Linked DNA regions of Homo sapiens: region 2 is linked to region 1. Evidence: fine-mapped expression QTL. A gene starts in region 1. The other region holds a variant in brackets. All regions are shown on one strand. Distances are between the middles of the regions.

The links. PIP is the estimated chance that this variant, and not a neighbour inherited with it, causes the effect.
Region 2: its variant is the best candidate, but not a certain one, in a credible set for the expression of GRXCR1 in testis (GTEx, PIP 0.83).

Annotation. Positions count from the first base shown.
Region 1 is chr4:42,890,074-42,894,481 of GRCh38, forward strand. GRXCR1 (glutaredoxin and cysteine rich domain containing 1) reads left to right here and starts at 2,640. Exons shown (of 4, transcript NM_001080476.3): 1 at 2,640-3,577. The coding sequence starts at 3,194. It also overlaps the pseudogene RN7SKP82.
Region 2 is chr4:42,933,456-42,937,863 of GRCh38, forward strand. All of the region lies in intron 1 of GRXCR1 (glutaredoxin and cysteine rich domain containing 1), which reads left to right. Among named protein-coding and RNA genes, the nearest start is that of GRXCR1, 43 kb to the left of the region's middle. The variant T/C (reference allele first, on the strand shown) is at 2,113.

The DNA of each region.
Region 1 (4,408 bases):
GTGACATGATCTTGGCTCACTGCAGCCTTGACTGTCTGGGCTCAAGTGATCCTCCTGCCTCAGTTCCCAAGTAGCTGGAACTACAGGCATGAGCCACCATGCCTGGCTAATTGTTTTGGTCTTGTTTTATAGAGAGGGGATTTTGGGGTTTTGCCATGTTACTCAGGCTGGTCTCTATCTCCTGAGCTCAAGCAATCTGCATGCCTCGGCCTTCCAAAATGCTGGGATTACAGGTGTGAGCTGCTGCGCCCAGCCTAATTTGAGCTTTCAAGTCTTATTATTGTAGAAGTACATTTGGTAAAGCTATAGCTGCCATAGATAGTGATTCTTCTGCTGGCTTTGGGCAAAGTAAATTAAAAACCTTTTGGAAAGGATTTGCTATTCTGGATGCCATTATGAACATTTGTGATTTATAGAAGGAGGTCAAAATATCAACATTAACAGGAGTTTGGAAGTTGACTTCAACCCTCCTGGATAACTCGAGGGGTTCAAAACTTCAGTGGAGGAAATGACTTCCATGTGGTGGAAATACAAGAGAAATAGAATTACAAGTGAAGCCTGAAGATGAGACTGAATTGCTGCAATCTCATGATAATACTTGAATGGATAAGAAGTTGCTTCCTATGGACGAGCAAAGTGGTTTCTTGAGATGATATCTACTCCTGGTGAAGATGCTGTGAACATTGTTAAAATGGAAACAAACAATTTAGAATACTACAAAACCTTAGTTGATAAAGCAGTGGCAGGGTTTAAGAGGATCAATTCCAATTTGGAAAGAAGATCTACTGTGGATCAAATGCTATCAAACAGCATTGCATAAAACAGAGAAATCTTTTGTGAAAGATTGTTGTTGTCTTATTTTAAGAAGTTGCCACAGCCACTCCAACCTTCAGCAACTACCACCCTGATCTGTCAGCAGCTATTAACATGGAGGGAAGACCCCTTTTAAACAAAAAGATTACGACTTTCTGAAGGCTAAGGAGATAGTTAGCATTTTTTAGCAGTAAAATATTTTAAAATTAAAATATGTGCATTTTATAAAGACATAACAGTACTGCACATTTAATAGACTATAGTATAGTATAAACATAACTTTTATGCAATGGGAAACAAAAAATTCATGTGACTGTTTATTGTAATATTTGCTTTATTGCAGGAGTCTGGAACTAAACTCACAATATCTTTGAGGTATGCCTGTATTCAGTGTTGGCACTGGCAAAAGTGCAATAAAACAGGCACTCATATACTAGTAGAAGTGTAAGTTATACAATTTGTGTTAAAAGCAAATGACAATTTTTTTCAAGAGCTTTAAATTTGTAAAAATTCTTACCTCATCAATTTTACCCAAATAAATTTATGCTAAACAACCAGATATATGTACACTGATTTTTAAGCAAGAATATTAATTATGGCATTATTTTACCAAATATTTTAAATTATGAACATCTAGCAATCCAGAAAGAATAAAGTAAAATACAACATGGCTATCAGTAGGTTTTTTAATACACACATTAAATTTATGTTTTTCAGAAATAATGGTATGGGAAATGATTCATGTTATAAGTTTGACTGAAAAAACCAAGATACTAAATAAATGCAATATATTTTTGTATATGAGAGCATATTAATCAGATTCAGTAATGATATCTGCTCTAACAAACAACTCTTAAATTTCAATCTTCATTGCTTAACACAATAAAGGCTTATTTTTTCCCATGACATCATCTAATGCAGGGTGGTCGTGGTTGTTAATTTCTCTGTAACTCTGACAAGCTCAGTGTAGTGCTTCCAGATTGCTCTGGGGCCATGCAGCTAGCAGTTGAGGCAGGAAGAAACATAGCACAGACAGGGCAGGCTCTGTCTCAATTGACTTGGTGCGTAAATGATGCATCACTTTTGCTCACAATTATTGTCAAAAGCTAGGCACTTGTTCCCTTTTCCCTTAAATTCAAGAGTCTGGGCAATCTGGTTTTGTGAGCCATGGAGCATCTCTGCCATTATACACTGGAAGAAAATACACAAAATTATTAACATCTCTAGTGAGATTTTTCATGATTTTATTTTCAACTTCTTGCTATTATTTTCTGAATTTTCTAAAATAAATGTAAATTAAGTTCATAATGAGACCAAAACTATAAAAATTAAAAACGTGGTACTTTATGCACGCAAGCTGCTTTCCTCCCTCAGGAGGTGCAGACAGCTTGGGGAACTCACTATAGTGTACATTTCAATATAACCTTATATATCGTAACAGGTTCCTTAGGTGCTTGCCAAAGTGATAGAAAATACACTGAGCACAGCATGAGGAGGAACTTTCTCTATGCATGGGTGATTTGGATATAATATTTATCAATGCTGATTACCTGGATTGCTTTGGCTGATCTGGCTAGCCTGGAGGGTTTTTCCATTCTTCCCTTACTGTTGCATATGTTTTCTTTCTGAAACCTTTTCTCTGTCAAAGAGAACAACATTTTCTACTAGCAGAAGGGGGAAAGCAACAAAGCAAAAGTTCTCCTTTTCAAAAAAGCTAAAAAATCGCATTTTTGTTACCAAGCTATTCTTTAGCTTGGTAAAGACAGATGTAAGTTGGACATTCATCTTATGCAATGTAGATGAAATCTAACTGATGATTTAATAAGAACTAATAGTAATAGCTCTATGCAGGCATGCAGCATGCAGCGTGTTCACTGCCCTTTAAAGAATAAATAAGTCCTGTGAGAAAACTGTGACTGCTCTTATCCTACAAACTTGGTTCCACATTTTACCTCTAACCTCTGGTTTGGACAATGAATAGTAGAGACATGTCCACTGCTCAGGTCCTTTTCAATGCCCACCATTGGCTTCAAAGTTCAAGCCTTTCATTTTCTTGCCCCATACATATTTTCAGATTCGCTGCATGCCACTTTCTTGCACTTGTCCTGTTAAAGAGTCCACCATGGCTATTTAATATTTAAAGGCTGAGATCATTTTGCGGGTTTTAGTTTAAAGGTAACCATAGCACACACACACACATTTATTATTAATAGCAGAGACACACTGTAAGTCCTTGGGAATCTTCTTTCCTTTTGATGTTAGTTTCACAGGAGTGCTGCCATCACTAGAATTGGCTCTGATATTGCTATCTGGCAAGTGGACTAGTGCAGTAACAACGGGTCCAGAATGCTGTAAACTGTTCATATGGGTGGAGGTGACCATGCTTAAAAGGGAGATGAAGCCAGAAAGTGACAGGCCACGGAAAGTCCGGTTTCGGATCGCGTCCTCTCACAGTGGGCGAGTTCTGAAGGAAGTGTATGAAGATGGGCAACCGTCAGGCTCTCTGGATTCTGAATGTGCCAGTATCTGTGGGATAGATGGACTAGGTGATTCCGATGGACAGCAGAATGGCCACATAGAGTCAGAAGGTGATGAGAATGAGAATGACCAGGATAGCTTGCTGGTGTTAGCAAGGGCTGCCAGTGAGAAGGGTTTTGGTACAAGAAGAGTCAACATTTTAAGCAAAAATGGCACAGTCAGAGGCGTCAAATACAAAGTGAGTGCTGGCCAGGCTCTATTTAACAATTTGACCAAAGTATTACAGGTAAGTCATTGCTGTTTCCTTCTCCTGCTCTTTGTTCCTAACTCACCATCTGAACACCTCTCAGTTCTCCAGTTAAAGCAAGCCTCTCTTATTTGCAACTCCTACATGCTTCATGAGACGCTCCTCCACCTAAGATACTGTCCTAACAGCTATCAATTAAAAACTGGGTCATTGTGCTTGGGAAAATAGACTGAGTTCTCAAAGCCAAATTTCTAACACATAAGTGGTCTTTTTTTCCTTCCAGTGTGTGATGACTAATATAACCTGTCTACTTCTTTGCTAAGGAAAAAGATAAAACTATGCTGTTCAAAGCATTTGAGCAAAGATTAAAAGTTAAATTCTGGTTTATTATCCTTGAAATACCAGTGTAGCATTTATCATTACTTATGTAGATATTTACACCAGAAAATGTTGAGTGCATGAATTCAGCGAGGTTGGGTTCAACTGGAAGGTTGTGCAGCAATAAAGACTAACTTCGACTTCCTCCCATTCCTGAGGAGGTTGCAGGCTTCATTCAATATCAATTTCTCTATTAAATTGCCCATAAAAATTCTAGGATGATGCTTGAAAAAATTACTCCTCTATAAATGTACAGACTGAGATCTAGATTTTGTATAATAATTTTTAACATTTATTACTTTAAATGTGATAGATTCTGCAGAGTAATATAGAAATATATTATTCAGGTATTGGGGCTTTTGACAATGATCTAATGTTAACAAGTTTTTGAAAGCATTGGTAAAGTGATTTGTTTTTTTGTTAAAAACAGATATCATTATGTCGGGAATGGAATTTATGATTGCTATCATTAAGGTAGCCAATATTTTTCAT
Region 2 (4,408 bases), 43 kb after region 1:
ACAATGGGATGACTACTTGCTCAGTGAAGTGAGATGTTTGCCCTTTTCCCTCTTCTTTTTCCTCACTGCTATTGACTAAATCAGTATCTTCATATCTTCCTCAAATTCATATATTAAAACCTAACCTCCAATGGGACAGTGTTAGGAGGTTGGTTTTTGGAGGTGATTAGGTCATGAGCATGGAGCCCTCATAAATAGGATTTGTGCCTTTATAAAAGAGACCCCAGAGCACAGAGACTCCCTTTCACCATGTGAAGATGCAGAGAAGATGCCACCTCTGAACCAGGAAATGGGCTCTCACCAGACATCAAATCTAGTAGAGCTTTTATCTCAGACATCCCAGCTTTCAGAACTGTTGTTTAAAGCCACCCAGTTGATGATATTCTGTTATAGCAGCCTGAACACAGTAAGACACTCACCCCCAAGAAGGAGGAGCTGATGTTCTGAAGATGGACGAGAAAGGGGAAGTAAAGAGCAGGGCACGCCACTCCACCTCCTTCCCCCAAGTGAGATGAATCAAGGGGAGATGCAGGCAGAACCTGGAGCAGGAGAAAACTTGGTCCATGTTCCAGATCAAAGTTTCAAAATTATTAGTACTATTTTAAATATCCAAATGAAGGAGTTCTAAATCAGAAAGGAGCAGACAACTTGTGGACTCTTTAAGGAGGCCTCTTCTTCTCTATGAGATCTCATAGAACACAGGTAGAGACAGTTAACTGAAAACATAAGTTTTGTGTTGAGTTGAGACTTCATAATATAACTGTTATATGTGTATGATGTGATATTATATATATATATATATGTATATATGTATCCACACAGTTTAGCATATCCGAAGTACTGTTTGAATGATGGAGATACTAAGCAGTAAAAAGTGCAAAATGGATGCATTGAACAATTTTGTAATAAGAAAATAGAAATTCAGTTTAACATCTTGCCTCTGCACCACACACACACACTCACAGAGTTTCTCTCTCTTCTTTTATGCTTGAACACATGGATTAGCACTTCTTTTCATAGAATTAATATAATTCCATGTGAATTATATGAAAGAACTTCCTATAGAAAGGATTTTAGGTCACACATAAAGGAAGAAATTCTTTTTGCATCTTAGCTAACAGAATGCTACACATTTCTCCAGTCCTACACTTGCTCTATCATGAAATAGAGTGCTTTTTAAAACGTTGACTTCTATTTTGTGTTTTTACAAAATACTTTCACTTATCTGTTATCCATGTTTGTATTAAACCTGCTCTGTGAATAAACTTTGCAATAATAAGGGCCACATATATAACAGCTAAGTCTAGTGACTCATACAGATTCATGTCTGAATAGGAACTTGATAAGAGTTGATTGGTGATGACGAGGCCATGTCAATGAGCTCAAAGAAAGCTTAGCAGCCAGGACAGAAATTATTCTTATGGTCAGTTACACTTTTCTCTGAAGTTTAGTAAACTATGCAATGAACATTTCCTCCCCAGGATTTGAGTCTGGAATTGGGATTTTGGTTGAAGATTACAGTGGGGGTTCCATAACTCTTGGCTTCTGGTGAGGACAGAAAGTTTCTTTAAAAAGTTCCTTGAATAACCAGATTATTTTGGAATGCCTGAAACTCTGACTGCTCAGGAATATTTCAAGGCCACAAGTATTTTTCATGTACCATATGTTAAACATTACATTTTATAGGTTACATATAAGTGAAAGACATATTTTCTACTTTCAAAGAATTATAGACTCTTAGAGAGAAAGATACACAGCTGCATGCACTCAGAGACAGAAACAGTAGCAAAGTTAGCAGTTTCCTCAATAAGGTATCTAGAATCCTAGCACCAAGAGATAGGAAAAACAACACCAAATTAAAACTTGGGGGTCCATGGAACACATTTTGAGAACTATTGGGGGAAATAATTGGATGTTGTGCACTAAGTGGTAAAGTTAGTATTACAGACAGAAGTATAGGAAGGAAGAGGGGAAAGAAATGATTAGGGTCTGGACAAATGAGGGAGGGTTTTGTGCAACAGATGTGGTTTAAGCTAGGCTTGGAAAGATGGGTAGCATTTGGAGAGGAGGGAAGGAAGAATATGTTTCTGACAGTCAGATGGCACAATGTCT[T/C]AGGCGAGTAAGAAATAAAATTAAGATCCAGATATACAAAGAAGCTCTGTAAGAGTGGAGGTTTGTGGTGAAGAACCTCTGAGACATGGGATGAGTGTACAACGAAGGATAAACAGGCTGTATAGTAAAAGGGTGTGAATGCCAGGCAGAAGCATCTGGCAAGATTAAAAAGGGGATTTAAAATTATTTAGATTAAAGTTCTTTTTGAATAATCTTAATGCGTTTTATTACTTGGAAGTCTAGTGTTCCTTCAGATGTTAACATATGCCTTCTCAAAAGTTGTACAATGACCATACGAAGTGAGATAATAGGTTTCTTTACTCTGGGATGTTCCAGTCTTTTACACTAAATAACACTGCTTTTTAAAAGGGGGGAATGTAATATTTCATTAAAGAACTCCCATCCTACTTTTTTGTTTTTGTGAAAGAACACTTGTTGGCATTTGTCACTTTATGTAATTTAATTTGGGAAATGCTCTACTAAATATTTACCAGCTATGCTCTGGAGACTTGTAGTCCTGGCTTATGTTAATTTGGGCAACAAGGAGGAACAGGTGAGAATTATCCCTCTTTGGAGTGACTTTGTTTCTTTGTCAAATAATATAAATATTAGAAAATGAGATGGTCAATTTTTATTGAAACTGATGTTCAATAAAAATTACTGTAGACCAAAATTTGCTGACATCTGAGACCACATACCAAGTTGAAAATTAGTGTTTAAGAAGAAAACAACATCCATTTATCCAATTTTAATTAATAATCTGAGTTATAGTAAGCTGTTAAGATTTTTACATTAATTTGCAGAATTTTATTACTATTACTAGTGTTAGAATTTTTTATGTTTACTGGCCTTTTGCCTTTTAAAGAATTTTTTATTTTAGAATAGTTTTTGATTTACAGAAAAATTGCAAAGATAGTACAAGGAGTTTCCATATGACCAACACCCAACGTTTCCTATTATTAACATGTTAAAATAAGTGTGGTACATTTGTCACAGTTAATGAACCAATACTGATAAATTATTATTAATTAAAGTCCATACTTTATTCAGATTTCCTTAGGGTTCATCTGGTGTCCTTTTTTCTGTTCCTGGATCTCATCTAGGTTAGATATTTCATTCATTTTCTCAGGCTTTTCTTGGTTTTGGTGATCTTGATAGTCGTGGAGAGTGCTGGTCAGGTTTTTAAAGAATGTTCAGTTGGAATTTGTTCAGTATTTTCTCCACAATTAGATTATGGTTATGTGTCTTGGAAAGGAAGATAACAGAAGTAATGCTTCATTTTTATATCATTCTGTAAAGAGTACATGCTATCAACATGACTTTTCATTGTTGAAGTTAAACTTGATCCCTGGATGAGGTGCTGATTGCTAGGTTTCTCCACTATATAGTTACTCTTTTTCCCTACTTTCCACACTGTACTCTTTGGAAAGAAGTCATTCAGCTCACATTTACCAGGTGAGGAGTTACACTCTACTTCCTTGAGAATGAAGTATCTACATACAGCATTTGAAATTCCTCTCATGGAAGATTTGGCTTAGTCCTTATTTATTTATTCAATCATTTATGTATATCAGTGTGGACTCATAGGTATTTATTTTATAATTTGATTATATAATCTAATACCACTTTATTTTGTTGCTCAAATTGTTCCAGCTTTGGTCATTGAAATTGGCTCTTGAGTCCCATTGACATACTCATATTGAGGTCTTTTTTATTTTTATTTTTATTTTTTGAGTACTTTCTGGCAATGTAAGATGATCCAGGCTCACCTTGTGTTTTTTTTCTGCCCCAGTGCTATAATTAGCTGTTTCTTCAAGGAGCTCTGGTTCGTTTTATTGGAAAATGGTATTAGCAATATCTGGGAGCCAAGAGAGCTAAGTGTGTTCACTGCTCCAGGGATGTCATTGTTTCTAGGACCTCTCAGCTGACAGACCAAGGAAATATATGTGGGTATGCTATCCTGTGTATTTCCACATCTATAAATATTTCCATATGCAACCATTTGTATCTGAATCAAGCTAAACACGAGTTCATACTGGTGCCCATGACTCTAATCCATTACCACATGGATGATTCTAGTCTCCTTCCCTTGCTTATTTCTAAATTCCCACTCTCAACAATAAGAAACTTGGCTCCCATCACCCATCATCTATTTACTTAATATTTCAATTCTCATATACATGTATAGCAATTGTAACATATGTTTTTAAAGTTTTTATTTTTTATGGATACATAGTAGGTATGTATATATTGAGATATGAGATATTTTGATATAGGCATAAAATGTATAATAATC